Linked DNA regions of Homo sapiens: regions 1, 2 and 3 are each linked to region 4. Evidence: fine-mapped expression QTL. A gene starts in region 4. Each other region holds a variant in brackets. All regions are shown on one strand. Distances are between the middles of the regions. Region 1 overlaps ADGRE3 (adhesion G protein-coupled receptor E3). Region 2 overlaps CYP4F22 (cytochrome P450 family 4 subfamily F member 22). Region 3 overlaps CYP4F22 (cytochrome P450 family 4 subfamily F member 22). Region 4 holds the start of ZNF333 (zinc finger protein 333).

Evidence for each region. PIP is the estimated chance that this variant, and not a neighbour inherited with it, causes the effect.
Region 1: its variant is fine-mapped to the expression of ZNF333 in transverse colon (GTEx, PIP above 0.99).
Region 2: its variant is fine-mapped to the expression of ZNF333 in T cells (GENCORD, PIP 0.95).
Region 3: its variant is fine-mapped to the expression of ZNF333 in breast (GTEx, PIP 0.93).

The regions. Positions count from the first base shown.
Region 1 is chr19:14,652,380-14,660,379 of GRCh38, forward strand. ADGRE3 (adhesion G protein-coupled receptor E3) reads right to left here. Exons shown (of 16, transcript NM_032571.5): 5 at 6,134-6,171; 6 at 2,603-2,786. Among named protein-coding and RNA genes, the nearest start is that of ADGRE3, 18 kb to the right of the region's middle. The variant TGA/T (reference allele first, on the strand shown) is at 4,118.
Region 2 is chr19:15,543,242-15,551,383 of GRCh38, forward strand. CYP4F22 (cytochrome P450 family 4 subfamily F member 22) reads left to right here. Exons shown (of 14, transcript NM_173483.4): 9 at 730-796; 10 at 909-1,038; 11 at 4,867-5,000; 12 at 5,897-5,961; 13 at 7,433-7,515; 14 at 8,053-8,142. Among named protein-coding and RNA genes, the nearest start is that of CYP4F22, 39 kb to the left of the region's middle. The variant A/T (reference allele first, on the strand shown) is at 4,761.
Region 3 is chr19:15,532,157-15,540,298 of GRCh38, forward strand. It overlaps CYP4F22 (cytochrome P450 family 4 subfamily F member 22), which reads left to right. Exons shown (of 14, transcript NM_173483.4): 5 at 5,205-5,258; 6 at 5,379-5,506; 7 at 5,716-5,837. Among named protein-coding and RNA genes, the nearest start is that of CYP4F22, 28 kb to the left of the region's middle. RefSeq lists a silencer at 6,749-6,949. The variant G/C (reference allele first, on the strand shown) is at 4,327.
Region 4 is chr19:14,686,183-14,694,324 of GRCh38, forward strand. ZNF333 (zinc finger protein 333) reads left to right here and starts at 3,866. Exons shown (of 12, transcript NM_032433.4): 1 at 3,866-3,968; 2 at 7,269-7,312. The coding sequence starts at 7,310. RefSeq lists silencers at 3,460-3,509, 3,840-4,209.

The DNA of each region.
Region 1 (8,000 bases), 34 kb before region 4:
ATTGGGTGATGGGTGCATCAGGGATTTTATTCTCCTATTTCCTTTTGTGCATATTAAAAGGTTAAAAAAAAAAAGAAGCAAGCAACAAAACAGCACATCAAGAATGACACTATTTTATGGCTGGGTGCAGTGGCTCATGCCTGAATTCCCAGCACTTTTGCAGGCTGAGGCCAGTTGATTGCTTGAGGTCAGGAGTTCAAGACCAGCCTGGCCAACATGGTGAAATCCCATTCTACTAATACACAAAAATTAGCTGGTCATGGTGGCAGGCACCTTTAATCCCAGCTACTAGGAAGGCTGAGGCAGGAGAATTGCTTGAACCCAGGAGGCAGAGGTTGCAGTGACCTAGATCATGCCACTGCATTCCAGCCTGGGCAATAGAATGAGACTCCATCTCAAAAAAAAAAAAAGAAAAAAAAAAAAAGAATGACATTAATGACATTCTAGAAACTACTACTGGTTTGTCTAATATTGACTCTCAGTTTTTGAAAAGTTTACAAGTATTTACTCTAATTATGTATTAATGTTTTTGGCCTACTGTTTCATTCATTTAGTACGTTTTAATGAATAGAAATTCTTGAGCTCAGTGTAAGTGAATTTATTGTTATTATTATTATTTTTGAGATGGAGTCTTGCTCTTTTGCCCAGGCTGGAGTGCAGTGGCTTGCTCTCAGCTAACTGCAACCTCTGTCCCCCGGGTTCAAGCGATTCTCCTTCCTCAGCCTCACAAGTAGCTGGGATTACAGGCATGCACCACCACGCCTGGCTAATTTTTTTTAGTAGAAACAGGGTTTCACCATGTTGGCCAGGCTGATCTCGAACTCCTGACCTCAAGTGATCCGCCTGCCTTAGCCTCCAAAAGTGCTAGGATTACAGGATGAGCCACCTCATCCTGCCCACAATGTTAATTTCATCATCCATTATATTATCGCTTGTTACTCTTTGTCATTTTTATCAAACCTCAATTTGACTTGTTTTTATATTATTTAATATTTTCTACATTAAACTATGTGTTTCCTGTAAAAAAGAATGACACTATTTTGACAATATTTCATAATATTAAAGAGTGGAAAGATAGAATAATCATAATTATAGCAATTACTACCGTAGTTTTTCTTCTTTCTTAAAAGTTTGAGTCGTTTAGCTTCTGAGGGATCCTAGTCCTAGGTGCATTACATGCACTTTCATTATCTCTATTAAAATTTTTTTTTGAGACAGGCTCTCACTCTGTTGTCCAGGCTGGAGTGCAGTGGTGCAATCTCAGCTCACTGCAGCCTCGAACTCCTGGGCTCAAGCGATCCTCCCACCTCAGCCTCCTAAGTAGCTGGGACCTCATTTGCACACCACCATGTCCAGCTAATATTATCCTCATTTTATTGACAGGAGAATGAAGCCCAATGAGGTGAGGGCACTGGTCTCAGATCAAACAGTTAGGACGTGGCAAAATCAGGAGAGATGAGATTTACTTGCAATCTGGAAAATGGTTTAATTTTGAACCAAAGTATCCAGATTCCAGTTTTCCAAGAAGAATAGGCACTGACTTTTTCAAAGCCTGCTGTGTGTGTGTTTTTTTTTTTTTTTTTTTTAATTTAAGATGGAGTCTTGCTCTGTCACCCAGGCTGGAGTGCAGTGATGTGATCTCGGCTCACTGCAACCTCTGCCTCCCCAGTTCAAGTGATTCTCCCACCTCAGCCTCTGGAGTAGCTGGGATTACAGTCATGAGCTACCACGCCCCGCTAATTTCTGTATTTTTAGTAAAGATTAAGTTTCACCATGTTGCCCAGGCTGATCTCAAACTACTGGCCTCAAGTGATCCACCCACCTTGGCCTCCCAAAGTGCTGGGATTATAGGTGTAAGCCACCATGCCCAGCCCAAAACCTGTTTTTTTTTTTTTTTTAATGAGACAGGTTCTTGTTCTGTCATCCAGGTTGGAGTGGCAATGGCATGATCATAGTTCACTGCACCCTCAAACTCCTGGACTCAAGCCATCCTCTCCCTCAGCCTCCCAAGTAGCTGAGACCACAGGTACAAGCCACTGCACCTGGCAAATTTTAAATTTTTTTTAAAGAGATGGGGGTCTTGCTATGTTGCCCAGGCCAGTCTTGAGCTCCTGGGCTGAATTAACCCTCCCGCCTCAGCCTCCCAAAGTGCTGGGAATACAGTCGTGAGCCATCATGCCTGGTCCTCAAACTACATTTAAGTGAAAATTCCAGACCTGGGATTGGAAACTATTGGCAATCTTCTGAATAAACAACTTTATTGAGGTATAATTGATGTCTAACCAACTGCACATATTAAAGTGTACAATCTGGTGAGTTTTGTTGGGTGCACACACCTCTGAAATCAACACCACAATCAAGGCAGGAAGATTTCCATCACCCCTAATAGTTTCCCCAGATTTTCTCATGCCTCTGCCACCCCTCCCTCCTGCCCCTCCCTGTCACTCTAGATAAGTTTGCGTTTTCTAGAATTTATATAAATTTTTGTAATTTACATAAAGGGACTCATGTGGTGTATTCAATTTTTTTTTTCTAATTGCCTAACCCAGATCCCAGCTGCTAACCAGTCCCCAGGGTGTATCAGTCCTCATTATTGTCTTACCTACACTATCGTTTTGGATTTTCAGGACTTTTTGTTCTGGATCTTTCAAGGCAGTTTCTAGAACTTTCGATTCCACATCCCGGAGAATAGTGGTAGCTGTGGATGAGATTTCTTGTCTCCCTTCTGTTCTCCATAAAGTCTGATTGGTGAGAAGTGACTCAAATTTGTCCACAATCTTTTGCAGCTTTGAAGACATAAAGAATTTTCATTTTTTAAAAATGTAATCTGGTAAGTCCCATATCCAAAAGAACAGTAGAAAGCATGAGAAAGCAGGCTCTGGAGCTGGAGGAACCACGTTCAAATCCTGGCACTTCATCATGTCCCAGCTTTGTGACCTTGGGCAAGTCACTCAATCACTCTGTGCCCCACGACAGGAAAAGGAACTCAAAGGGTTTTTCTGGAGGATTAAATGAGTTAACAGATGCTCTTCTTTTAGGACAGTGTCTGTATCTGGTAAAAGCTATGTAAGGGTGAGTCACTATTATTATTTTTGAGACAGAGTATTGCTCTGTCGCCCAGGCTAGAGTGCAGTGGTGGGATCTTGGCTCACTGCAACCTCCAGCTCCTGGGTTCAAGTGATTCTCATGCTTCAGTCTCCTGAGTAGCTGGGATTACAGGTGCACACCGCCATGCTTGCTTAATTTTTTTAATTTTTTTTTTTGTATAGACAGGGTCTTGCTATGTTGCCCAGGCTGGTCTGGAACTCCTGGGCTCAAACGATTCTCCTGCCTTGGCCTTCCAAAGTGATGGGATTATAGGAGTGAGCCACCGTGCCTGATTGGGTTAGTTATTATTAACGTTTTTTGCCAACAAGGTAGTGATAAGTTTGTTAGAAATAGACCAGTGGTTCTCAACGGGGGGGTGATTCTGCTACTCCCTCCACAGGGCACATGTGGCGATGGCTGGAGACATTTTCGGTTGTCACTGTCGCAACAAGGGAGTGGTTGCCACTATTGAAGCAGCGTCACTGTCTGGGGTAAATACCCAGAGTTTGTCATCTTGCGCCAAGATGAAGGACATGGACACACACGAGGAGTGAGTTTAGGAGTGGAGGTTTAATAGGCAAAAGAAAAAGAAAAGAGGGCAGGGTGCGGTGGCTCATGCCTGTAATCCCAGAACTTTGGAAGGCCGAGGGGGGTGGATCATCTGAGGTCAGGAGTTCAAGACCAGTCTGACCAACATGGTGAAACCCCATCTCTACTGAAAATACAAAATTAGCCGGGCATGGTGGCGCGTGCCTGTAATCCCAGCTAGTTGGGATGCTGAGGCAGGAGAATCGCTTGAACCTGGAAGGCAGAGGAGGCAGATGTTGTAGTGAGCCGAGATCACATCACTGCACTCCAGCCTGGGTGACAGAGTGAGACTCCATCTCAAAAAAAAAAAAAAAAGAAAAGAAAAAAAAAAAAGAAAGTAGAACAGCTCTCTCCCTTGCGAGAGAGAGGGATGCCCGAAAGAAAGCAAAATCCTGCCCACCGACTAGATTTTATATTCAGGCACTAGATTTTATAGTCAGGC[TGA/T]GGAGGCGGTGTCTGAATTATGTAGGGCCCACAGATTGGTTGGGCCAGGTGCGACATTTACTTACTGCTCGGGGAAGGCTGGTTGCCCTACCCACTTGGCCAGTACCATCTTGTCTGCTCCTTACTGTACACGTGACTGGCAAAGAGAAGGGAAGATGGAGCTGCCATTTTGATCATGTCTAGTCCCAGGCAGCCTTTTCCTATTGGCACAGCTGCTGGCATTGACCCATAAGCTTCCAGCTTGCTTGTCTATGTCCGCAGCTTGATTTTACAGGCTGCTCTTTGTTAGAAAAGAAAATTTGGGGCTGCTCTTCATTAAAAGGAAAACCTCACTGAGGACTTCCGTACCCTCACCATCTGCCTAAGTAATTTCTTCTTAACTCCTATATCATTGTGTATTTATTTATTTATTTTTGAGATGGAGTCTTACTCTGTTGCCCAGGCTGGAGTGCAGTGACGTGATCTCAGCTCACTGCAACCTCTGCCTCCTGGGTTCAAGTGATTCTCCTGCTTCAGCCTCCTGAGTAGCTGGGATTACAGGCATGCGCCCCCATGCCCGGCTAATTTTTGTGTTTTTTGTAGACATGGGGGTTTCATCATGTTGGCCAGGCTGGTCTTGAACTTCTGACCTCGGGTGATCCACCCACCTCCCAAAGTGCTGGGATTACAGGCATTAGCCGCCATGCCCGGCCTGATTACTTGATTCTTTATTTGTTCATTACTTCAGTGATCATTCCTTGAACTCCTAATTTGGGGTTGGTCTTATTCCCTTCCTCAAAAAGCTCACAGTCTAGGGATTGATTACATGATGTAATCACATATTTATATAAATGCCGTCAGTTGGCCGGAGACAATAATGGATACCATTGGATACTTGGATGTCTTTTGCAGCAGTGCAGCAGGCCTTAATATACTCTCTCTTGGCCTGTCTTTCTTGGTCTGGGATAGATTCCTGTCTTTAGATGGCAACACACACACGCTCATACACACACACTCACACACTGTCATATGTATGTACGTACATGCACACTGTGTGTGTCTATCTATACCTATATCTATATATATATATAAGTAGATACAGATACAGAGCCCTCTTGGTATACGCATGGCATTGGTTCCAGGATCGTCCATATATGCTCAAATCCAATCCATGCATACTCAAGACCCATGGAACTCACTCATGAAAAGTCAGTCCTTCCTCTTTGTGAGTTTTGCATCCTGCCTATATATACATATATATATATATATTTTTTTGTTTGTTTGTTTGTTTTGTTTTGTTTTTTGAGACGGAGTCTTGCTCTGTCACCCAGGCTGGAGTGCAGTGGCAACATCTCCACTCACCGCAACCTCCGCCTCCTGGATTCAAGTGATTCTCCTGCCTCAGCCTCTGGGGTTGCTGGGATTGCAGGCATGTGCCATCATACCTGGCTAATTTTTGTATTTTTTAGTAGAGATGAAGTTTCACCATGTTGGCCAGGCTGGTCTCGAACTCCTGACCTCAAGTAACATGCCTACCTCGGCCTCCCAAAGTGCTGGGATTACAGGCGTGAGCCACCACGCCAAGCCCGGCAATACTGTAGTTTTGATTCACATTTGGTTGAAAAATGTCCTCGTGTAAGTGGATCCCCGCAGTTCAAATGTGTGTTGTTCAACTGTATATATAGTGATATATCTATAGTGAGCTGGATAATGATACATATATAGTGGTATACCTAATGGTATATCTGTATCTATCTATCTATAGATATATGTATACATACCACAATTATGCATAATATATAATTGTATATAATATATGAATATGTACTATTGTGTAGTAATATGATATTATATGGTAATAATATATTATGTATTTATATATAACATATTCTTTGTCCTAAATAATACATTATATATGTATATATAATATATATTTTGCCCTAAATCCATCCCCATTTGCTCACTTTGGGCTTTGTAAATATTTGTTACTGATGTTTGTTACCTGGGAAGGGTCTGGGGATCAGCCTCCACTCACCTCTTTCCTGCCCTCGGTTGTCTTTGAGGAGGTGGTGTCTGCAAAAGACATCATGATGGAGTTACTATTGGAACTGAGAGTGACCAGGCAGAGGGGTGGGCAGGTGGGGTAAGTAATGGGGTGAGCAACTTTGCACCTAGAAGGTAAAAGCCTGAATTCATAGTCTTTATCTGCTGTTTGTTGATTTTTAAAAAATTTTAAATTTTATTTAAAAAATTTTTTATTTTTTATTTTTATTTTGAGACAGAGTCTCACTCTGTTGCCCAGGCTGGAGTGCAATGGTGCGACCTAGGCTCACTGCAACCTTCACCTCCTGGGTTCAAGTGATTCTCCTGCCTCAGCCTCCTGAGTAGCTGGGATTACAGGCACGCACCTCCAGGCATGGCTAATTTTTGTATTTTTAGTAGAGATGGGGTTTCACCACGTTGGCCAGGCTGATCTCAAACTCTTGACCTCATGATCCGCCTGCCTCGGCCTCCCAAAGGGCTGGGATTACAGGCATGAGCCATCGCACCTGGCTTTTTTTTTCCCTTTTTTTTTTTAGATAGGGTCTCATTCTGCTGCCTAGGCTGGAGTGCAGTGGCACAATCTTGGCTCACTGCAATCTCAATGTCCTGGGCTCAAGCAATCCTCCACCTCAGTCCCCCAAGTAGCTGGGACTGTAGGTGTGTACCACCAGACCTGGCTAAATTTTTTTTTTTTGTATTTTTTGTAGAGATGGGGTTTCGCCATGTTGGCCAGGCTGATCTCAAATTCCTGACCTCAGGCAATCCACCCGCCTTGGCCTCCTAAAATGCAAGGATTACAGGCGCGAGCCACCGTGCCTGGCCTCCAAATTCTTTTATTCCATCTTGACTGGAAATTAGAACTGAAATGTCCGAGAAAACAGAAAATTAGAAGCCTCTTGTGTTTAAAGTCAGCCTGGCTGGGAATGATAACCGAAACAGAAGCATCAGTGTCTGGTCATCAGCTGTTAATGAAGACTTTTGTGTTGGTTTCTGTGCTTAGTGAGGACATCTCTGCTTTAGAAATTTGAGGAAGGGTGCACCTGTAGTCCCAGCTGCTTGGGAGGCTGAGGCAGGAGGATCATATGAGCCTAGGCATTCGAGACCAGCCTGGCCAACATGGCAAAACCCTGTCTCTACTAAAAATACAAAAATTAGCTGGGCATGTTGGCGGGTGCCTGTAATCCCAGCTACTCGGGAGGCTGAGGCAGGAGAATCTCTTGAACCTAGGAGGCAAAGGTTGCAGTGAGCTGAAATGACACCACTGCACTCCAGCCTGGGAGACAGAGCGAGACTCTGCCTCTGAAAAAAAAAAAAAAAAAAAAAAAAAAGACAAGGAAAGTCTAGCAAATGTTTACATATCTTTTATCATCATGCTGAGGTTAAATCTGTACTTATTCTAAATTTTGGTTTTCAGCTCAGTCTATTTGCTTAAAAGCACAAACAGCTTTGTTTTAATACTGAACATTTTATCTTAAGAGTTCAAGAACTTTGACTTACAACCCTGAGTCTAGAATATGTTTGTTATAGGAAACCGTATTTATTGTAGAAAACTGCCCTTTTGAACCAAAGCTGCACACTTTATCATTGGGTGGGGGTGTCTGTTGCTTAGAGCTGCCAGCCTTGGTAATAACGAACCCCAAATGGGCTCAGTCTTTATAAAAGGACGGTGCAGACCTCTTAACATTAGGAAAACAACCAAAGGCATTTTCCTTTTTTGTAAAATAAGACAAGTTTAAGAGATTAACATCAGAACCCAGGTAGAATCACAGTCTGCTTCTACACTGTCAATAGAGGTGCGCATTGCTTAGTAAAAGACAGATTTATGGCTGAGTGCTGTGGCTTATGCCTATAATCCCAGC
Region 2 (8,142 bases), 860 kb after region 4:
CAGGCTGGGGTGCAGTGATGCGGTCATGGTTCACTGCAGCCTTGATCTCCTGGGCTTAATCCTCCTGCCTCAGCTTCACCAGTAGCTGGGACTACAGGCATGCATCACCACACCTGGCTGATTTTTTTTTTGTAGAAATGGGGTCTTACCATGTTGCCCAGGCTGGTCTTGAACGCCTAGGCTCAAGTGATCCTCCCACCTTAGCTGCCCAAAGTGTTGGGATTATAGGTGTGAGCCACCATGCTGGGCACTTTCCATCTTTATTAGACAAGTTGCATACTTCCATCTTCCTGGACTAGTTCCCCCCACAGCTTGGCTTAAGAGAGAGAGGGGAGCCAGGCGTGGTAGCTCATGTCTGTAATCCCAGCACTTTGGGAGGATGAGGCAGGTAGATCACTTGAGGCCACGAGTTCGAGACCGGCCTGGCCAATATGGCAAAATTGCATCTCTACTAAAAATACAAAAATTAGCTTGGAGTGGTGGCATGTGCCTGTAATCCCAGCTATTCAGGAGGCTGAGGCACGAGAATCACTTGAACCTGACAGTCGGAGGCTGCAGTTAGCCGAGATTGTGCCACCGCACTCCAGCCTGGGTGATAGAGCGAGACTCCATCTCAGAAAAAAAAAAAAAAAAAAAGATGGGGGCGGGGAGATATCTGAGTTTTGAGGAGCCCCTAGGATGCGGAGGGTGGGATGAAGTGGGCTGAGCACCCTCTACTGCCCATTCCAGGATGAAGATGGAAAGGAACTGTCAGACGAGGATATCCGAGCCGAAGCAGACACCTTCATGTTTGAGGGTGAGGATGTGGGGTGAGGCTGGAGGAGGGCAGGAAGGGACATCATTGTCTGTAGACAGCATCTCTGCTTTCTTCAGGCAGCCTCCATTCAGATACCCTCATCTCCCTGCAGGTCACGACACAACATCCAGTGGGATCTCTTGGATGCTGTTCAATTTGGCAAAGTATCCGGAATACCAGGAGAAATGCCGAGAAGAGATTCAGGAAGTCATGAAAGGCCGGGAGCTGGAGGAGCTGGAGTGGTGAGTGTGGGGTCAGGGGAATGGAGGGGGCAGGTTGAGGCCAGAGCCTTGGGTGTAAGCCTCTGCTCTCCCACTTACTGATTGTGTGACCTCAGACAAGCCACTTTAGCTTCCTGAATTGCAATTTCTTCAGCTACAAAATGGGGGTGGTTATAGTGCCTATGCCCACCTCATAATGCAGAAGTTCTCAAAGTGTCCTAGTCAGCAATTATTGCAATGATGCTGCATAATGAACAGCTCCCAAACTTAGTGGTTTACAGCAAGCATTTGTTTCTTGCTTTTGTATGCACACATTTCTTGCTCTTGTCTGCTCATTACTCTAATTGCTGTTGGACTTGGCTGAGTGGAGTGGAGTTGCTTCAAAACTAAGAGCTGGGTTCAGATCTGCTTCATATACTCCCTTTCTGTTCTCTTTGGACCAGAGGCTACCCTGGGTCGTATTCTTCTCAAGGCAGATTCCAGAAGCACAAAAAGCCATGAAATTTAAAAGCTTTGCTTGGGCCGGGTGGGGTGGCTCACGCCTGTAATCCCAGCATTTTGGGAGGCCGAGGTGGGTGGATCACCTGAGATCAGGAGTTCGAGATCAACCTGGCCAACATGGTGAAACCCCATCTCTACTAAAAATACAAAAATTAGCCAGGTACGGTCATGGGTGCCTGTAATCCCCCCTACTCGGGAGGCTGAGACAGGAGAATCACTTGAACCTGGGAGGTGGAGTTTGCAGTGAGCTGAGATTGCACCACTGCACTCCAGCCTGGGCTACAAGAGTGAAACTCTGTCCCCACCCCCCCACAAAAAAAGATAAAATAAGTAAATAAATAAAATAAAAAAAAAAAACAAAAGCTGTGCTTGCACTAGAAGATTGCATTGGCTAAAACAAGTCACGTGACCAAGCCCAGCATGAATGGGGCAGGACATATACTCCACTCACCTGAGCAGAAGGCACTGAAGAATCATATGACAAAGGGTACAGGTATATAATTCTAATTCAGGGAGGAAGTGGAGAATCAGAACACATACCCAGTCTCTACCAGATTCATGCTATGTAGAGCTGATTCTGGGTGATGAAAAGAAAACACAGCATTAGGCTGGGCGTGGTGGCTCATGCCTGTAATTCCAGCACTTTGGGAGGCCGAGGGGGGTGGATTGCTTGAGCTGAGGTGTTTGAGACCAGCCTGGGCAACATGACGAAACCCTGTCTCTACAAAAAAATACAAAAATTAGCTGGGTGGGGTGGCGCATGCCTATAGTCCCAGCTACTTGGGAGGCTGAGGTGGGAGGACTGCTTGAACCCAGGAGGTGGAGGCTGTGGTGAGTCAAGATTACGCCACTGCACTCCAGCCTGGGTGACAGAGTGAGACCCTGTCTCAAAAAAAAAAAAAAAAAAAAAAAGAAAAGAAAAGAAAAGAAAAGAAGAAAAACACAGCCGCAACATTAAATAGCATCAACTCACACAGTGAGGAGGTTCCTTTCGGTTCTATTTCAACCTTTTGCCTTATGGCCTCAGGGGGACATGCTCAGTGGGGTGCTACTGTGTCCTGAACACTTTGCTAATCTTCCTTTTAAACAAGTGGAGAAGATGTCTCAGGTTGAGAGAGTTGGGTGGGAGTTGGTGTGTAGACACAATTTAATAACACACTACTGCTTTCACAGTGGTGTTTGTATGGATGAATACCTTTATGCCAGGGATGCTGTTTGCCCTTTATAGCAACATGAAGTTTATTTTTTTTTAAGACACAGGCTGGAGTGCAGTGGCATAATCATAGCTCACTGCAGCCTCAAACTCCTGGGCTCAGGCAATCTTCCTGCCTCAGCCTCCTGAGTAGGTGGGACTATAGGAGTGTGCCACCACAACTGGCTAATTTTTAACATTTTTTTAAGAGATGGGGACTTGCTGTGTTGCCCAGGCTGCTCTCAAATCCCTGAGTGCAAGCAGTCCTCTTACTTTGGCCTCCCAAAGTGCTGGGATTATAGGTGTGAGCCACTGTGCCCAGCCATAAAGTTTCTTTGAAAGAGAACCTGGGCCAGGTGCAGTGGCTCATGCCTGTAATCCCAGCACTTTGGGAGGCTAAGGCGGGTGGATCACTTGAGGCCAGAAATTCAAGACCAACCTGGGCAACATGGTGAAACCCTGTCTCTACTAAAAATACAAAAATTAGCTGGGCGTATTGGTGTGTGCCTGTAATCCCAGCTGCTTGAGAAGCTGAGGCGTGAGAATTGCTTGAACCTGGGAAGCAGAGGTTGCAGTGAGCTGAGATTGTGCCACTGCACTCCTGCCTGGATGAAACAGCAAGACGCCATCAAAAAAGAAAGAGAACCTGCTAATTTAAAGAAACTAATCTAATCTAGAACATGAACCAAGAGTTATCATTAGCCCAATTTTGGGCCCTAAAGTCCAAGGGAAAAAATATTAAGTAAATGATATTATAAGGAGATAATGCACTTTTCTTTTCTTTCTTTTTTCTTTTTTTCTTTCTTTCTTTTTTTGAGATAGGCTCTCACACTGTGGCCCAGGCTGGAGTACAGTGGCATGATCATAGCTCACTACAGCCTCCTGAGTAGCTGGGACCACAGGTGTGTGCCATCATGCCCAGCTAATTTTTTAACTTTTGGTAGAGATGGGGTCTCTCTTTGTTGCCCAGGCTGGTCACGAACTCCTGGGCTCAAGTTATCCACTTGCTTCGGCCTCCCAAAGTGCTGGGATTACAGGTATGAGCCACCATGCCTGGCCTGCACCAGTTTTTTTTTTTTTTTTTTTTTTAAGACAAGAGTCTCACTCTGTCACCCAGGCTAGAGTGTAGTGGTGCAATCTCATCTCACTGCAACCTCCGCCTTCCGGGTTCAAGCAATTCTCTTGCCTCGGCCTCCCAAGTAGCTGAGACTACAGGTGCACGCCACCACACCCAGCTAATTTTTGTGTTTTTTAGTAAAGATGGGGTTTTGCTATGTTGGCCAGACTGATCTTGAACTCCTGACCTCAGACGATCGCCCATCTCAGCCTCTGCAAGTGCTGGGATTACAGGCGAGAGCCACCACACCTGTCCTGCAGCAGTTTTTTAAGTACAGAAATGGACCATATAAACTGGCATATTGCTGTTGCCGTGAGTCCCCTTGGCTGTCCTGGCACCTCGCCTAGGTGCCCCTGGACCTCCACATAATTCATCAATTAAAGGCTTAATGCTGGGCCCAGCAGAGGGCCCAGTGCTAGTGCTGTTCTGAGCGGTTGGTGCTCAGATACTTTGCATCCTAAGTATTAGTACTGGCCGGGCACTGTGGCTCACGTTTGTAATCCCAGCACTTTGGGAGGCCGAGGTGGGTGGATTGCCTGAGGTCAGGCGTTTGAGACCAGCCTGGCCAACATGGAGAAACCCTGTCTCTACTAAAAATACAAAAATTAGCCGGGTGTGGGTGCGCATGCCTGTAATCCCAGCTACTTGGGAGGCTGAGGCAAGAAAATTGCTTGAACCTGCAAGGCTGAGGTTGCAGTGACCCGAGATGCGCCACTATGTTCTAGCCTGGGCAACAAGAGCGAAACTCGGTCTTAAAAAAAAAAAAGAAAGAAAAAGGAAAAGAAAAAACAAAAAAACCACTAAATATTAGTACTTCCCACCTGTGCATGAGACAACTGCAAATGGCAGAAATTGGGGCAAGTCTAAAATCCTGGACTGGTTTCTTGCCCAGCTGCCCCTGAGAGAGAGAGAGAGAGAGAGAGAGAGGGAGAG[A/T]GTGTGTGTGTGTGTGTGTGTGTGTGTGTGTGTGTGTGTGTGTGTGTGTTTTGGGGAGGTGGTGCCATGGTGGCTCGGCCTCTAGTTATATCTCCATTCTCCCCAGGGACGATCTGACTCAGCTGCCCTTTACAACTATGTGCATTAAGGAGAGCCTGCGCCAGTACCCACCTGTCACTCTTGTCTCTCGCCAATGCACGGAGGACATCAAGCTCCCAGATGGGCGCATCATCCCCAAAGGTGCCTACCATGTTCCGCCTGCTGCTGGTGCACTGCCTCCAATGATGTAGCTGCTCTATTGTCCACAGGGGCCTGGCTATGCCTGCCCCAGGTGCACTATCCCTGCAGATGGGATAGCTCTCTGTGTGCCTGTTGCTTCTGGGGTGTTGGAGAAAACCCAGTTGTGTGTGCAGGGAGATAGAGCCGGGTGAGTCCAGGTGGAAAGGAAGGAGGCAGTGTCGCAGGGATGGGCCTGTGAGGGTGCAGTTGGGGAGGGTCAGTTTCATTCAGTTGCCAGTTACTCCCTGGAGACCAAGCCCTGCCTTGGTTGATACAGGGGACCCTGGCTCAGGTTTTGAGTATTGCCCTTTCTGGGGGAGATACAGCAGGGTGCAGACATTCCCAGGCGTATGGAATCAGGAATGGGCTAAAGGGAGAGACAGGGGCTGGAGTAGCTCCAATATGGAGAGGAATGCAGGGAGGGCTGCCTGGAGGAGGGAATGTGGGAGGTGAGGCTTGGAGTGTGGAAGTGAAAGAGTGAGCATGTTTATGGAGTAGAGCCTCAGGATGCAGATTTTGAAAGGCCTTGAGTGCCAGGTGATGGCGCTTGAACTCAATCCTGGGGGCAGCAGGGAGCCAAGGTAGGTGTTTGAGCTGAAGAGGAGCAATGTCAGATCTGCGAGTAAGAAAGATCCCTATGTGGCCAGCTTGGCAGCCAGAAAGAAGATGATAGGTTCCTCTTAGGGAAAGGTGGGAAGAGTGGATGGGGCAGCAGAATTTTTTAGAGAAGGATGGACAGAAGGTGGTGGCAGATGGCTCATGGGAACATCATGGCTCTAGGGAGACCCAAGTTGGGGGATGTTTCTGGAGGAGGCCCTGGCTCCCCTTGGCCCCACTGATCCCATCTTTCCCCACAGGAATCATCTGCTTGGTCAGCATCTATGGAACCCACCACAACCCCACAGTGTGGCCTGACTCCAAGGTGAGTGCCTGCCCCACTCCTCCCTGCCCTCAGGTCCTCCCCTCCCCTGCGCCCCAGGGAGCCAGCGAGCAGGGCTGGTTGCAGGGCCTGAGTGCGCACACCCCTCCCCACTCCGCATTTAGCCATTTATTCACCCACTGATTGTTAATTCATTAGGGCAGAAAATATTTATTGAGCACCTACTGTGTGCCAGAGTGTGTGCTGGGCTCTGAAAATAGAGGATGATACTGTCTTTGCCTTTACAGGGCTCACAGTGAAGTTTTGGGGAAGACAATAAGCAAATAAATAAGATTTTGGGTATTGATACATGCACAAAAGAAAGAAAAACTGGGCCAGTTCCGGTTTACAGGTGCAGTGGCTCACACTTGTAATCCCAGCACTTTGAGAGGCTAAGGTGGGAGAATCGCTTGGGCCCAGGAGTTTGAGACCAGCCTGGGCAACACAGCGAGACCCCCCATCTCTACCAAAAAGGAAAAAGTTGGCCCAATGTGGTGGCTTGTGTCTGTAATCCCAGTGCTTTGGGAGACCAAGATGGGAAGATTGTTTGAGGCCAGAAGTTCCAGCTCAGCCCAGCCTGGGCAACACAGTGAGACCCCATTTCTAAAAAAAAAAAAAGTTAGCCAGCCATGGTGATGCACATCTGCAGTGCCAGCCACTCGGGAGGCTGAGGCAGGAGGATCGCTTGGGCCCAGCAGTTTGAGGCTGCAATGAGCTATGGTTATTTATTTATTTATTTATTTGAGACTGGGTCTTGCTCTGTTGCCCAAGCTGGAGCGTGTGCAGTGGTGCGATCTTGGCTCACTGCAACTTCTACCTCCTGGGTTCAAGAGATTCTCCTGCCTCAGCTTTCTGAGTAGTTGGGATTACAGGTGTGTGCCACCATGCCTGGCTAATTTTTTTGTATTTTTAGTAGAGATGGGGTTTCACCATGTTGGCCAGGCTGGTCTTGAACTCCTGAGCTCAGATGATCCATCTGCCTTGGCCTCCCAAAGTGCTGGGATTACAAGCGTGAGCCACCGCGCCCAGCCTGCAATGAGCTATGATCGCGCTTCTGCACTCCAGCCTGAGTGAGACTCTGACTCTAACAAACAAACAAACAAACAAAGACAGACAAACAAACAAAAAAAAAGAAAAACAGGTGGAGGGGGCACTTTAGCTCGAGTGGTTATGAAAGGCCTTGCCGAGGAGATGTTTGAGCTGAGAACTTAGGGGATGAAGGATCAGGGAGAAGCCTGTTCTAGGCAGAGGAAACAGCAAGTGCAAAGGCCCTGAGGTGGAATCTCACTGGTGCGTGTGAACAACAGAAGGAGGCAGGTGTGGCTGCATTGCAGGAAGTGCAAGGTGGAATGGAAGAGGTGGCCCTGGGGTGCTCCCCATCCATCTTTACTGACCCCCAGAGGCTCAGGGAAGGGGGCCAGGCTGGGATGTCTGGGGCAGCCCCCAGACTCATCTCCAGGCTGTTCCTCCCTAGGTGTACAACCCCTACCGCTTTGACCCGGACAACCCACAGCAGCGCTCTCCACTGGCCTATGTGCCCTTCTCTGCAGGACCCAGGTAACCCCTCTATTTCCCCTAGTCCAAGCCAGCTGTGTAGGAACAGAGGCAGGGAAAGATCAGGAATGTGCCTCTCAGGAGCAGAGATCAGATGGCACCCAGGCGTCCTTTCTGAAGACCCAGCACCCTCTCCCCAATGCGCCAGGAGGCCCCCAAATCAGACTCTGCAATAGCATCCTGGGTATTGAGCACCAACGGTGTGTCAGGCCCTGAGTTCTGGGCTCCCACGCTCCCATTGGCTCTATGATGCCTTTGTCCCCGTTTTTACAGATGAAGGAACTGAGACTCAGAGGGGGCGCTGTGTATCCAGGACACACAGCTAGTAAGAGGCTGTACTGGGATTCAGACACTCAACCCCAAGGTCACATTAATTGAGCGATCCGTGGGGTCTCACTTTAACCCTCACCCAGCGTGGGGTTTCACTTTAACCCTCAGCCAGCCCAGGATGCTTGCTTCATTTTCAAAGGAGGCATGTGACCCCCGGGGACCAGTGCTCACACAGAAGCTGGGCCTGAGCCCTGTCCCCTCTTCCTCCAGGAATTGCATCGGACAGAGCTTCGCCATGGCCGAGTTGCGCGTGGTTGTGGCACTAACACTGCTACGTTTCCGCCTGAGCGTGGACCGAAC
Region 3 (8,142 bases), 850 kb after region 4:
TCTGCCTTTTTAATATATGTTTTTCTTTCTCTTTTCCTCCTTTCCTTTCTTCTTCCTCCCTCTTCTCCTCCTCCTTCTACTTCTCTCTCTACTCCTCTTTCCCCCTCCTCCCTTCTCTTCTTCTTTCTCTCCTCCTCCTTCTACTTCTTTCTTCTTCTCCTTCTCCTCCTTCTCCTTCTTCTCCTCCCCATCCCCCTCCTCCTCCTCCACCTTCTTCTTTTTCTTCCTCTTCTTTTTAGACAGAGTCTCACTCTGTCACCCAGGCTGGAGTGCAGTGGCATGATCTCAGCTCACTGCAACCTCTGCCTCCCGAGTTCAAGTGATTCTCCTGTCTCAGCCTCCCGAGTAGCTGAGACTACAAGTGTGCACCACCACACCTGGCTAATTTTTGTATTTTTTTTTTTCAGTAGAGACGGGGCTGCACCATATTGGCCAGGCTGGTCTTGAACTCCTGACCTTAAGTGATTCTCCTGCCTTGGCCTCTCAAAGTGCTGGGATTACAGGCGTGAGCTACAGCGCCTGGTCTCTCTTTTTTCTCCTTCCTCCTCCCTTCTCCTCCCCCTCAGAGCATCAGTTTCCTGAGCACCATCCTGCCTGGTTCTGAGACTCCAAACAGACCGAGGAGTAGTGCCCCAGCAGGGGCTGTCATGTAGTAGATGCTTAAGCCTCTTGCCCTCCCCTCATCCAGTGGAGGGAGGGGATATTCTGTGTACCCCATCAGAGAAGCCAGATAGGGAACTCCAGGATGGAAAAAAGGGTGGTGCTGTGAGTCAGCCTGGAGTGAGGCCTCTTGGCCCCAGGGTGCCCCCACCTGGAATTACACAGATCAGGCTCCAGTCACAGACACCACCCTGGATCAGGACCTCCTGGGGCCACACCTGGGAGTGGCTTGCTGTTCTGAGCTTGGAGCTGCACAGCCCTTGAGCCTGGAGGAGGGCCCAGCTCCTGTTGGAGCTTCAGTTTCCCCATCATCTTATGGGCCTTTGGACTAGGAAATTTTAATGAGAGAAAGTAGATAAACATGCTTTATAGAGAACATGATGATATATAGACATATAATTGTAGCTTGCTTTTATATCATCTTTTTAAAATGGAGGTGAAATTCATGTAACATATAATTAACCATTTACAAGTGAACAATCAGTGGTATTTAGTGTATTCACCATGTTGGGCAACCACCAGCATTTTCCAGTTTCAAAATTTTTAGTCACCTCATAAAAAAACTCTGTACCCATTGAGTAATCACTTCCCATTTCCCTCCTCCTCCCATCCGCTGGTAACCTCGAATCTGCTTTCTGTCTCTATGTATTTGCCTATTCTGGGTACATCATAGAAAGAGAACCACATAAAATGTGATCTTTTTGTGTCTGTTTTCTTTTACTCAGCATAATGTTTTTGAAGTTCATTCACGTTGTAGTAGGAATCAGTTTCATTCTTTTTTTTTTTTTTTTTTTTTTGAGACAGGGTCTTACCCTGTCACCCAGAGGCTGGAGTGCAGTGGTGTAGCCATAACTCATTACAGCCTTGAAATCCTGGGCTCGAGTGATTCTCCTCCTGCCTCAGCCTCCCGAGTAGCTGGAACTGCAGGCACGCACCACCATGCCCAGCTAATTTTTATTTTTATTTTTGTAGAGATGGGGTCTTGCTATGTTGTCCAGGTTGGTCATTAGGGCTGAATTCATTTCACTGTATGGATTTTTTTTTGTTTACCCATTCACCTTTTGGATGTTGTGAATCATGCTACTATGAACATATGTGTTCAAGTTTTGGGGTGGACATATGTTTTCATTTCTCTCTTGGGTAGATACCTAGGAGTAGAATTGCCAAGTCATATGGAATTCTGTACTTAACTTTTTAAGGAGCCACCTTGCTGTTTTCCACAGAGGGTGTGCATTAATTTTCTACTAACAGGAAACACAACTATTTATCTCACAAGTTCTTGATGCCAATAAATAATCATTTTAACCATAGTAATAAAAATAGCCAACAGTTGGTCAATTATTCATTTACCTACGCACGTATTTAATGAGCATCTACCATGTGCCAGGAACACAAGAGCTTGTTGAGTCTTATAGGGATGCCATGAGGCAAGATTGTTCTATTTTCTCCTTTGGCAGTGGTAACATGTCCAGGCTTACATATCTAGTTAGTGGCAGGGCTGGGATTTGAACTCAGACCTGGCTGGCCCAGAACCCAAGCTCTCAAACATAGTGATATGCAGCTTTCTGAGCATGAGTTTCTCCATGCTGGCACCATGTGGGGGTATTTCGTACACCGTCTCATCCATGGTAGGCATTACCATCTCTCCCTCTTTTTTTTTTTCTTTTTAAAAAACATTTTTGTAGAGACAGAGTCTTGCTGTGTTGCCCAGGCTGGTCTTGAACTTCTGGGCTCAAGTGATCCTCCTGCCTCTGCCTCCCAAAGTGCTAGGACTGCAGGTGTGAATCATTGCACCTGGCCTACCATCTCCTTTTTGCTGGAGGGGAAAACTGGTGAGGAGCGTGGACACAGACTTTCCTGGCATTGTGGTCAGAGTTGGAGTGGAAAAGGAACCTGAGGATGAGAGAACAATGGTTCAGCTGAGAAGGGGGTTTGGAGAAGGCTTCCTGGAGTAGGTGTCAGTGAAGCTGGGCCCCGAAGGATGCCTAGGAGCTTGCCAGAGAAGGAGTCCCAGATGGAAGGTCCTGCCAGTGCCTTGATGCAGATGTGTGAAAATTCCAGGGGAATTCAGGTGATTTAGGGTGGCTGGAGTGAAGGTGATATGTTGGGGGGAATAGGAAATGAGACTGACAGTTAAGCAGGAACTGGACAGCAAAGTGAATGAACTTGTACTTTATCCTGGGAGTGATAGGGAGCCACGGGAAGTATTTGAACAAGACAGCTATTGACCAGATCCTGGTGTCAGAAAGATCCCTGTGGAGCCTATCTTGGAGTCCAGAGTGCAGAGAGGAGAGGAGTGACTAGACTCCTGCTTTCCTCTTCAATGCTGCCTCCTCCAGGAAGCCTGCCCTGACTTCCAACAGCCCTTTTTCTGAGCCTTCCTTAGCACCTAGCACACTTTCTACCTTCTTGGTAATTGCATGGTGTGTCTCTGCTTCCCTTTCCTGCCCCACTCAGGAGCTCCTCCAGGGAGGGCATAGAGCTGAGCCATCTGTGGGTCCCCAGCATCACCCAGCTTGGGTTGGGCACAGAAAGGCAGCATAAGAGGTGTGATGAATGGGGGGATGAGTGGGCGGATGATTGTGTAGGCAATTGGCCAATTCCTAGGGATTGTGTCGGTGTAGGTGGCTGAGTCGCATTCAGGTAAAAGTGATATCACTCGAATTTCAGATACTTCCTTCCTGGGCCTCTGCCCATTCAGCCCCAAATCTGTTCAGTATATAGAAGGAGGATCCATCCATTCATCCATCCACTCATTCATTCATTCATCCATCCACCTTCCACCTATCCACTCATTCATCCATCCATCCACTCATCCATCCATCCACCATCCACCCATCCATCCATTCATCCATCCATCCATCCACCCACCCACCATCTATCCATCTGCTATTCATCCATCCACTTATTTATCCATCCATGTACTCATCTGTCCCTCTACTCATCCATCCACCCATTTATTCTTTCATTCATCCATCCTTGGATTGACTTATTTATTCATTTAATAAAAATTTATCTAGCACAACATATCAGTAATCAACACGAACCCTCCTGTTAAGGGGCTTGTAACTAAGTGGATACAATCCAGAGTGACTGCTGGGTCAGGGGTGGGGAGAAGCATTCAAGTTCTCATACAGGATGAGGGAAGAGTGTTTGGGGCAGAGAGAACAGCTGGTGGAAAGTCTCAGAGAAGAGAGAGCACGTGGTCTTTTTAAGGAGCTGAGAAAAGTTCTGTGGTGTGGCCGGGCATGGTGGCTTATGCCTGTAGTCCCAGCACTTTGGGAGGCTGAACTTGGAGGATCACTTGAGCTCAGGAGTTCAAGACCAGCCTGGGCAATATGGCGATACCCTGTCCATACACAAAATTAAAAAATTAGCCAGGCATGGTGGCGTATGCCTGTAGTCCCAGCTACTCGGGAGGCTGAGGTGGGAGGATCGCTTGAATCCAGGAATTGGAGGCAGCAGTGAGCTATGATCTCACCACACACCCCAGCCTGGGTGACAGAGTGAGACCCCATCTCAAAAAAACAAAAAACAAAAAGTTATGTGGTGTTAGTTCTGTGACGTCGAATAGGGGGTGGAAGACAGAGGTGTCTTGAGAGAGATTTGGACAAAGGCAAATGATTCAGGGCTTTGAAAATGGGCTGGTATGTGAGGGTGATGGGT[G/C]TGTGAGCAGGAAGGGGCGTGGTCAGATCTGATAGTCAGATGAGATTCTCCTGGGGCCATTCATGAGGGACACACTGGAGAGGGTGAGGCTGGAGGCTGGGAGCACAGGAGGTGTGATTCAGATGGCCTGAGCTGGCAGAAAATAAGGGGGTGGATTAGGGGAAGACTCAGGTGAAGAAGTCCATTCTGGATAGACAGCTCAACCTGGTCAAAGGTTCAGAGGTGATCCACAGCAGGCGATGAGAATAGGGTTATCTGGTGTATGTTGAAGGATGAGGTGGTGGGAGAGGCATACAGGGGCCAGATGGAATTGGGTTTCAATGCCAGGCTGAGCCTGAACTTTTTACAAGTGCAATGGGGAGCCATGGGAGGTGTCTGAGCAGGGGAGGCTCATGTTCAGATCAGTGTTTTATAAGGATTTTTTCTCGGGTAGGTGTGGAGGACGGACTGGGTGAATACAGTGGGAGGTTGGAGCCCAGTGAGGAGGACTAAGGAAGTCATAAGCAAAGGTCAAGGGTTGGAACTCTGTTTTGAGGCCAGGCACGATGGCTCGTGCTTGTAATCCCAGCACTTTGGGAGGCTGAGGTGGGTGGATCACTTGAGGTTAGGAGTTCGAGACCAGCCTGGCCAACATGGTGAAACTCTGTCTCTGCTAAAAATACAAACAAATTAGCCGGGCATGGTGGCGGACACCTGTAATCCCAGCTACTCAGGAGGCAGAGGCAGGAAAACTGCTTGAACCTGGGAGGCGGAGGTTGCAGTGAGTGGAGATCGCACCACTGCACTCCAGCCTGGATGACAGAGCAAGACTCCGTAAAAAAAAACAAAAAACCAAAAAACTCTGTTTTGAGTCACCATTTTCCCTTTGCCCTCCACAGCTGCCATCGCCCCCAAGGATGACCTCTTCTATGGCTTCCTAAAACCTTGGCTAGGTGAGTGCCCAGTGGGTAGGCTGGGGCTGGGGCTTTAGAGAAGAGAGGGAAGAGCATGGGGTTCCTTGGAAGGTTTCAGAGTAACAGGAGAGGTCCCTAACCTCAGTCTTCTGGGCCCAGGGGATGGGCTGCTGCTCAGCAAAGGTGACAAGTGGAGCCGGCACCGTCGCCTGCTGACACCCGCCTTCCACTTTGACATCCTGAAGCCTTACATGAAGATCTTCAACCAGAGCGCTGACATTATGCATGTGAGTCCTAAGGCTTTGAGGGAAGAGGGTGTCTTGGGAGTGAGGCTGGTCCAGGCTCCAACTCATGCATGGGCAAGCCATGTGATGTCAGGAGCCCTCACTGACTTTATCTATAAAATGAGCTTGTAGTGAAAACGCAGTCGGGTCCTTGTTAGGCTGACTCCCTCTCTGTGGTTTCCATGCACAGTCACCATGTATCTCTCTTCCAGGCTAAATGGCGGCATCTGGCAGAGGGCTCAGCGGTCTCCCTTGATATGTTTGAGCATATCAGCCTCATGACCCTGGACAGTCTTCAGAAATGTGTCTTCAGCTACAACAGCAACTGCCAAGAGTGAGTGTGACCCTTCTTGGGAAGATGGAGCCAGCTGCTCTAGGAGCAAGATGGTGGCAGGAGAAAGGGAACTCCCAGGCATTAGACAACTCTGGCCTATGGGAGCTCTGCCACGGATGGGCCATGTGCTTCCGGGAAACTGACCATCTCTCTGAGCTTCACTTTTTTTTTTAATCAAAAAAATGGGCATCATAATTCCTTCCCCATAGTCATTGTGTGAGAATTAAATGAGATAATGTGAATCAATGGCTTGGTATAAAGTAGGTGCTTAGTAAATGTTAGTATTTTTTCATTCCACTAGGAAGAGTATGTGGTCTTTGGACAGTGTCCTCCCCACTTTCTGAGGCTCAGTTTCCTTGTTTGTAAAAAAAGGATGACAATCTCTTACTTTCTGAGAGATGCTTTAAGGATAAAATGATGCAGCACTGCCCTGGCACATAGTTGATGCTCAGAGAATATTTGTTGAGTAAATGAATCAAATAACCAATGCCTTGCTTCATTAATTCATTCATTCATCAAATATTCATTGTGCACCTACTACGTGCCTGGCACCATGATATTGCTGCTGAGAACAGGGTGGTGAACAACAGACAGTCACAGTTCTGTGAAGTTTATAGTCTAAGTGGGGACATAAGGAATAAGGGAGATAATTAATGCAAAACTTGCAACACATAGTAGGTCCTCAGTAACAAGCTAATGACTTCGTTACTCTAGGCATTATAGGGGCACGTTCCAGTTGGATAAGGCAGAGATTGTCTTAGAAATTAAATAATTAATTCATCCAAGAAATATTTACTGAGTGCCTAGTAAGTGCCAACCCTGAACTAGGTGCTGGGAACACCATATTCAACAAGAAAGACAAGATGTTGCTTTTCTAGAGCTTCCATTTTAGTAGGAAGACAGGTAATAACCATGAACAAGTAAACAAACAAGAAAACGACAGACTGCAATAAGTGCATGAAAACAAGCCCACTTCAGGACTGAGGACAGCTCCCTTCAAGCCTGCTTCACCTGTTAGTTTTTAAAAAATAATGGCTTTGTTGAGACACAATTCACATACTATACCATTTACTCATTTAAAGAATACACCTGAACTGCTTTTAGTATATTCAGAGTTGTGCAACCATTACTATAATCAATTTTAGAATATTTTCATCAATCCTCCCCCACCCCAAGAAACTTCATACACTTTAGCAACCCGTGCACTTCCCTTTCTCCTTCAAGTCTAGGCAATCACTAATCTATTTTCTATCTCTATAGATTTGCCTGTTATGGATATTTCACACGGATGGAATCATACAGACTTTTGTGTCTGGCTTGTTTCACCCAGCATAATGTTTTAAAGGCTCATCCATATTGTGGCATGTATCAGTTATGTATTTCTTTTCATTGATGAATAATGTTCCATTTACCACATAATACCACATTTTGTTTATCCAGTCACCCATCGATGGACACTGTTTCCACTTTTCGACCTTTATGAATAATGCTGCTATTAACATTCATGCACAAAGTTTTGTGTGAACATACATTTTTAATTCTTTTGGCTATATACCTAGGAGCAGAATTGCTGGGTCATACGGTAATTCCATTTTAAACATTTTGAGGAACTGCTAAACTTTATTTCAGTGGGTTTCAACATGGTATGAAGTGGTTGTACCATTTTGCTCTCCCAACCAGTGATGTATGAGAGCTCCAGTTTTTCCACATACTCACTAACACTTGCTTTTTTTTGTTGTTGTTGTTTTGTTTGCTTTTTAGAGATAGGATATTGCTCTGTTGCTCAGGCTGGAGTGCAGCCCAACACTTGTTATTATAAGTTTTGATTTTAGTCACCTTAGTGGGGTGAAGTAGTATCTCATTGTGGTTTTGATTTGCATTTCTCTGGTGACCAGTGCTGTTAAGTATCTTTTCACATTCTCATTGGAAATTTCTGTCTTCTTTGGAGAAATGCCTATTCATATCCATTGCCCATTTTAAAATAAGTTTTAAGAATTCTTTATTTATTTTAGGTACCAATCCCTTATCAGATAGACAATTTGCAAATATTTTCTCCCATGCTGAGGAGTGTAACCATTTAGTTTTAGTGATGCTACAATGACTATGCCTATGTTGAAAGTCTTTATCCCTCTTTGGGCCTGTTCAAAAATATACCCGAGACTGGGTGTGGTGGCTCAGACCTGTAACCCAGCACTTTGGGAGGCCAAGGCTGGAGGATCACTTGAGCTCACGAGTTCAAGGCTGCAGTGAGCTATGATTGTGCCACTGTACTGCAGCCTAGGTGACAGAGCAAGACCCTATCTAA
Region 4 (8,142 bases):
CCTTCCTACCCTGCTTTCCTTACTCCCTCTCTCCCAAGAGCACCCCAGCAAATCATGAGGACCTACCCTCCTCCCAGGGATTGCGACCTAACCAAATTCCTCCCTTATTTGGTTATGTCATCAACACAAAAGAAGAAATAATTCAAGTTTCCTAACACTTTCTGGTTTTATCCTGAGATGAGATTTAAAAATATAATGCTTGATTTACAGTAAGACACAAATAAGATCCCCATTATCAATATTACTTTATTGATGATGATGATAATAATGATGATTGAGTCCTATTTCAGAGTGCTTAATTTCTTTTTGAAATTGAGATAGAGTCTTTCTATATTGCCCAGGCTGGTCTTGCACTTCTGGCCTCAAGTGATCCTCCTGCCTTGGCCTCCCAAAGCACTGGGATTACAGGTGTGAGCCACCGCGCCCAGCTCAGAGGGCTTAGTCTTTACATTATAGTGCCATCTTCTGGTAAGATTAAAGAAAAAGAAATCCAAAGTAGCTTCAAATGCTGGGCTTTAAGAAGCTGGGTTGAAGTATGGATGAAGGTCTAAATTTTCCGGGTATGAGGAGTTAAGGCAAATCCTACAGAGATATTAACTTGTTCTTTTTTACATCACCTTAAATCTATTATTGTATCTTTATTATTCTGGGACATTCAGGCCCAAAGATACTCATTAAGTCAGTAAGCTAAATTTAGTGACAAGTGCATGAGAATTAGAGTTAGGAAGCCTGATCATGATATTTATTCACTCATGCATTTGTGAACCCATCCATCCATCCGACAAACGTTTAAGATATGTGGTCTCTGTGCTCGGTGATTTCATGTCAGGTTGATTCATTTTACTCAGTGTTTACTTTCTCACATTTAAAATGGGGTTAACAATGGAAAACAGCGTGGCGATTCCTCAAAGACCTAAAAACAGAAATACTATTTGGCCCAGCAATCTCGTTACTGAGTATCTACCCAAAGAAATATAAATCATTCTATCATAAAGACACATGCGCATGTAAGTTCGTTGCAGCATTACTCACAATAGCAAAGATGCGGAACTAACCTAAATGCCCATCAATAGCAGGCGATATAAAGAAAATGTACATGCACACCATAGAACACTATGCAGATGTAAAAAAGAATCAGCTCATGTTATTTGCAGGGACATGGATGCACTGGAGGCCATTATCCTTAGCAAACTAACACAGGAACAGCAGACCAAATACTGGATGTTCTCACTTCTTTTTTTTTGAAACGGAGTCTAGCTCTATTGCCCAGGCTGGATTGCAATGGTGCGATCTCGGCTCACTGCAACATCTGCTTCCCAGGTTCAAGTGATTCTCCTGCATCACCCTCCCGGGTAGCTGGGATTACAGGCGCCTGCCATCATGCCCGGCTAATTTTTGTATTTTTAATAGAGACGGGGTTTCACCATGTTGGCCAGGCTGGTCTTGAACTCCTGACCTCAGGTGATCCACCTGCCTCAGCCTCCCAAAGTGCTGGGATTACAGGCGTGAGCCACCATGCTTGGCCACTGACTCCTTTCTTACTCCTGGCTTTGTTGAGTTATAGTTGACAAATAAAAATTGTATATATTTAAGGTGTACAACTTGATGTTTTGATATACATACAGTGAAATAATGAAGCAATTAGCACATCCATCGCCTCACATATTTGCTTTTTTTTTTTTGGTGGTAAGAACACGTAAGACCTACCCTCTTAGCACATTTCAAGTACATAATATGTTCCTGTTAACTACAGTCACCATGCTGTACATTAGATCTCCAAAACTTATTTATCTGAAATAACTGAACCTTTGTACATTTTGTTTTTTAAATGATACATTTCTTTTATTTTTATTTTTAGAGACAGTGTCTTGCTATGTGGCCCAGGCTGGTCATCTGGAACTCCTGGACTCAAGCGATCCTCCTGCCTTGGCCTCCCAAAGTGTGCTGTGATTACATGCATGAGCCACCCCGCCCGGCCCAACTTCTTTGTAAGAACATTTAGCTTAAAACACAGATAAATTGTACTGCATAAAGGTATTTTCTTTCTTTATATCCTTATTCTATAAGCTATTTTTCATTTTTTTTTTTGAGATGGAGTTTTGCTCTTGTTGCACAGGCTGGAGTGCAATGGCAAGACCTTGGGTCACTGCACCCTCCACCTCCTGGGTTCAAGCAATTCTCCTGCCTCAGCCTCCCGAATAGCTGGGATTACAGGCGCATGCCACCATGCCCAGCTAATTTTTGTATTACTAGTAGAGACTGGGGGTTTCATCATGTTGGCCAGGCTGGTCTCGAACTCCTGACCTCAAGTGATCCACCAGCGTCGGCCTCCAAAGTCTTGGGATTGCAGGCGTAAGCCACCGCGCCCGGTCTTTTCATATTTTTAAAACCTTTTTAAATGTGAGTAATGTGTTGCACTGCAACATTGTGACAGTTACAACATCACTAGGTGATAAGAAATTTTCAGCTCCATTATAACCTTATGGGATCACAACTGTGTATGTGTTTCGTGGTTGACCAAAACCTTGTTATGTGGTGCATGACTGCACATGTGCTTGATATATAAAGAATACCAGGGAACTAGTGACAGTGGTTGTTTCAGGGGAGGAAAATTTAGGAATAGAGTGAGCCTCCCGTTTGAACTTTTCCCATAGGTATGTACTATGTATACTACATAATAAATAGTTTTTAAAAAGTCAGATCTATGTCTTAGATTCACACATCTTATTTTTAGTGAGAAGGGCAAGCTGTAGAAGAAACAAAAATACATCGTCCTATTTTTAGAATAAAGACAGTTAGTTGACCCGTGAACACCAAGGGTTTGAACTGTGGCTATCCCCTTATAGGTAGATTTTTTTCTACCTTTGTCCTCCTTGGGACAGCAAGACAAACCCCTCCCTTTCCTCAGCCTACTCAGGGTGAAGCTGACGATGAAGACGTTTATTTATGATCTTTACGATCACTTCCACGTAACGAAGAGTAAATATATTTTCTCTTCTTCATGATTTTCTTAATAACACTTTCTTTTCTCTGAGCTTAGTTTATTTTAAGAATATGGCATATAATATACAAAATATGTGTTAACTAACTTTATGTTATTGGTAAAGCTTCTGGTTAACAGTAGTCTATTAGTAGGTAGGTTTTGGGGGAGTCAAAAGAAGTGAATTTTCCACTGCACAGGGTGGCGCCCCAACTCCCGTTGCCTAAGGGTCAGCCGTATAAAAATATACAAAAACAATCTTAAGTATGGGTATATTTTTGTAGGGGATTGGATTAAGCCCATGGATAAAGGTGGAAGGGGTTGGGGAAAAGGAAGGAGAAAAGGGTAAGTTAAATATTGAGCATCCCTAAAGAGACCCGGGGAGGGGTCGGGTGTGCCCCTCTCAACCCTTGAAGCCCAGGTCCCCTCATCCCGCCTTCCGAATGCAAGTTCAGCTCCCATTCCCACCCCAAGCACAAGCCCCGCCCCATTTTTGCCCCTGAGGCGCACGACCCGCCCCTACTACCACCCTGCAAACCAAGGCCCCGCCCACTCCGCCATTGGGGTGCAAGCCCCGCCCATCAGCCATCGGAGGGCAAGCCACACTCCACCCCGCCCCCGCGCACAGGCCCCGCCCCACTTTTGCCCCGGGACCTAAGCCCCACCCCTATCCCTGTCTCTCGGACATAGGCTCCGCCCCCAGCACCACCCTCCATGCTCTGTGGGACCCCACTCCAGAGCCTAACCTCATCCCCCGGGTAAGAATACTAGAATTTCTCCTTGGAGGCTAAAGAAGACGTTAGTTTCTCTGCCGCCGCCTAAGGCTACCCTGGCCACAACAGCCTGAGCCACAGCCACTTCCGTTCCCGGCGGCCCCGAGACCGGAAGCGGAAGTGCGCGCGGCGGCGGCCGACGGCGGCTGAGCTGTGCTGCGCGGCGCGGCGCGGTGCGGCACGGCACGGTGGGAGTGTCTCCGGCTGGCTTGCAGGTGTGGCCCGGCCCCTCGGGAGGGCGGGGAGGGCGGGGAGGGCTCGGCTGGCGCGGGGAGGGACTGGAGGGCCTAGAACAGCTCCGCCTGTGTGAGGGGTTTCCTCCCTGCGATCAGCCGGTGGCCGGCGTGAGGCCCACACAGTCAGGGCCTCGCATCTGGGCGCCCGCCGCCCGGTCTCTCGCTCTCAGGTACCCCCCGTCCGGGCAGACAGGGCTGTCATCCTGTCAAAAGGGAAATCCCAAACAGTCCAGGTCCCACAGCTCAGAAATGTGGTGACACCGGCCCCAGCTCTCACCTGTCCTTCCCAATTTTTAGGGAAAGTGCATAAAGACGGCCCTACCTTGCCTACAGTATGCAAGATAACTGCGAATTAGTAATTCACGTTTTATTTGATATGATACTTAATATTATCTAGCTTTGCAACTGGAAAGTGAGGTCTGGGTCCACATGTGCAAACTGGTTTAATTGATTGGCCAAATTTACTTAAAAAATTGAATGCATCCTCCATTAAGGAATGAATTAGATGACGAGAGATTTCTTTTGGAGACTGACAATTTGAAGTCTTTTAGCTTAATATCTGTTAGCTTGGCTTTGCATCTCTTCCTTTTCCATAACTTTTTCTTTCTTCTTTTTTTTCTTTCTCATAAGAAAGCTTTTGGCCAGGCTTGGTGGCTCACTCCTATAATCCCAGCACTTTGGGAGGCCGAGGCGGGTGGATCACCTGAGGTCAGGAGTTTGAGACCAGCCTGGCCAACATGGTGAAACCCTGTCTTTACTAAAAATACACAAATTAGCCGAGCGTAGTGGTGGGCGCCTGTAATCCCAACTACTCGGGAGGCTGAGGCAGGAGAATCGCTTGAACCCCAGAGGCGGAGGTTGCAGTGAGCTGAGATTGTGCCACTGCACTCCAGCCTGGGTGACAGAGCAAGACTCCATCTCAAAAACAAAAACAACAACAAAAGGAGGAGTTCTTAATTTTTTTTGTTTTTGTTTTTCTTTATTTTCTATGTTTGAGACGACTTTTACTTCTGCTGTGGGCATCAAGTTTCTCACTGTTAGGTTAAGAAAAGCCGTTTCTCAGTTATTTCACAAATATTATTATCAAGAAAACCTAAGACTGTTATTCAGATCTTTTCAAGTTGGCTCCAGTCCTTCCCCCAAGCATGTGAATCACAGAGCTTCAAAACTAATGGAACTTCAGGGAAAAGACGATATAAACTTTGTTAATACTGGAAATTCAAATTGAGTTGGCCATAAGTGGGATGTCTTTTTTAATAATGGGGTTAAAGCTCGTGTCTACTGAGAAATCAGGAAAAAATTAACTCCAGAGGAAAATCATGCATCAGATTTCAGTTTTACGAGTGAGGTGTTTGTTTCCACAAAGAATATATGCGCTTGCCTTGCCTTTTTAAAAAGAATTAATATTGTTTCTTAAAGGTACCTGAAACTTGTGTGATTATGTCTTATGAAAGACAGGCACTTTAAGTTATTCTTATATTTGATTTTTATGGTGTCATATTGTCTTTTTTTTTTTTTTTTTTGAGACAGAGTCTCACTTCATCACCCAGGCTGGAGTGCAGTGGCACAATCTCGGCTCACTGCAGCTTCTGCCTCCTGGGTTCAAGCAATTCTCGTGCCTCAGCTTCCCAGGCAGCTGTGATTATAGGCGCCCGCCACCATGCCCGGCTAATTTTTGTATTTTTAGTAGAGACGGGGTTTCACCATGTTGGCCAGGCTGGTCTGGAACTCCTGACCTCAGGTGATCCACCCGCCTCGGCCTCCCAAAGTGCTGGGATTATAGGCGTGAGCAACCATACCTGGCCTCATACTGTGTTTTGTGTGTGCGTGGGCATATTCCTTCTTAGGCTAGCTATACTGAGTCATTCTTGAGGAGTGTTGATTATTTGGCATATTTTCACTGGGGTGCCCTCAATGAATTGGACCCTGTACATGGGGAAACAGTGGGACTGAAATAGTTACAGTGCTTGCCCCTGTGGAGGCTTTATTCTAGCTAATAATATTGGTAAATTAATAGTGCCAAAGGCAATATGAGAACGTGGAACAGGAGAACTTGGGGAGGATGTCAGGAAACACATCTGAAAAGGAACAAATGTTTGAACCTTCAAGATGAGTTGTACGTAGCTAAACAAGGGGTCTAGCTGTGGAGTGGGGTAGCGGAGGAAACTTGAGAGAACATTCCAGATGTACAGTCTTTCAGGCAGTACGAAGCCTGCTGTGTTCCAGGAGCTGAGAACAGGTAGAGAAAGCTAAAGTAGAGAAAATAAAGTACTGAATGGATGAGCCAGGTGAGAGAGGGAGGCAGGTCCCTGAAGATCATGGTTAGCATTGGATCTTCTTTTTATTTATTTTTTTTCTTTCAGACAGAGTCTTGCTCTGTCACCCAGGCTGGAGTGCAGTGTGGGATCTGGGCTCACTGCAGCCTCCACCTCCCGGGTTCCAGCGATTTTCTGGCCTCAGCTTCCTGAGTAGCTGGGATTACAGGTGTGTGCCACCATGCCCAGCTAATTTTTGTATTTTAAGTAGAGATGGGGTTTCACCATGTTGGCCAGGCTGGTCTTGAACTCCTGACCCCAAGTGATCCACCTGCCTCGGCCTTCCAAAGTGCTGGGATTATAGGCATGAGCCACCGTGCTTGACCTGGACCTTATTCTTTTTTTTTTTTTCTTGACATGGAGTCTTAGTCTGTTGCCCAGGCTGCAATGCCGTGGCACGATCTCAGTTCACTGTAACCTCCGCCTCCTGGGTTCAAGCAACTCTACTGCCTCAGCCTCCCTCCCGAGCAGCTGGGATTACAGGCGTTTGCCACCATGCCCAGCTAATTTTTGTATTTTTAGTAGAGATGGGGTTTCACCATATTGGCCAGGCTGGTTTCAAATTCCTGACCTCAAGTGATCCACCCACCTTGGCCTCCAGCCTGAGCAACAGAGTGAGACTCAAAAAAAAAGGTTTACATCACAGTTGGAGAGAGAGAGGCCAAAATCGTTTAAGAAATAAATATCAAATCACACCTTCATATGGGCAGTGGAGGAAAAGTAGAAGATCTTAGAAGTATTTTGAGGGAAGCTAGAAGTTAAAATGTTCCTTTGATGACATGGGAAGAGTCAGTAGCAGTCACTAGAGGCTGTTGTTTGAAAGGTGCCTTGGGGGCCAACATGTTGCTTATGGAGATAAATGTCCTGTAAGGGTTTTGATTGTGACCACTCTGCTGGAGATCCCCCAAAATGCTCTGCTTCCGTCCTCACCCCTTCTTTTACCTCAGTGTCTCCTTTATTGCAGGGAGAACACCGACTGAGACCTCAAACCCTGGCTCCAGTGTCATGGTGAGGAAACTGGGGGCTCCTGTGGCTGAAGGGGTGGATATGTAGGATAACTATGTCCTCTGGGCCCTGTCTTCTCTCTCGCCACTTCCGTCCCCAACTGAGGAAGAAAGGGAAGGGTGAGTGAGGAGCATCCTCATCCCTGCCCTAGGGGACCTAGGGACTTCCTTCTGTGCCTGACCTCTAGAGGTGGCATGGAAGAAGAGTCCCACAGCAGACCCTGGGGCTCTGAGCGGAGCTCCTCCAGGGCCATCCTTGTCATCCCTGGTGAGACCTATTGAAAACACATGTGGCCATAGAAATATAAATTCAGCTTAAATTAATTAAGATTCAGTACATTTAGCCGGGCATGGTTGTGTGTGCCTGGAATCGCAGCTACTTGGGAGGTTGAGGTGGGAGGATAGCTTGAGCCCAGGAGATTGAGGCTGCATTGAGCTAGGATTGTGACCCTGCACTCCAGCCTAAGCTACAGAGTAAAACCTTGTCTCTAAAAAAAAAAAAAAAAAAAAAAAAATTAAAAAGTTTAAGCGCTCAGTTTCTCAGTCGCCCCAGTCACATTGCCCAAGTGCTCAACAGCCACATGTGCTGGTAGCCCCTTTCTGGAAAGCACAGGCATGGAACATTCCCATCATCAGAGAGTGATGTCTGTTGGACAGCACTGCTCTGAAGAATTCTGCAATTAAAAGGATTCTCAGATGAGGCCGGGCGTGGTGGCTCATGCCTGTAATCCCAGCACTTTGGGAGGCCGAGGCGGGCAGATCACTTGAGGCTGGGAGTTCAAGACCAGCCTGGCCAACATGGTGAAACTCTGTCTCTACTAAAAATACAAAAAG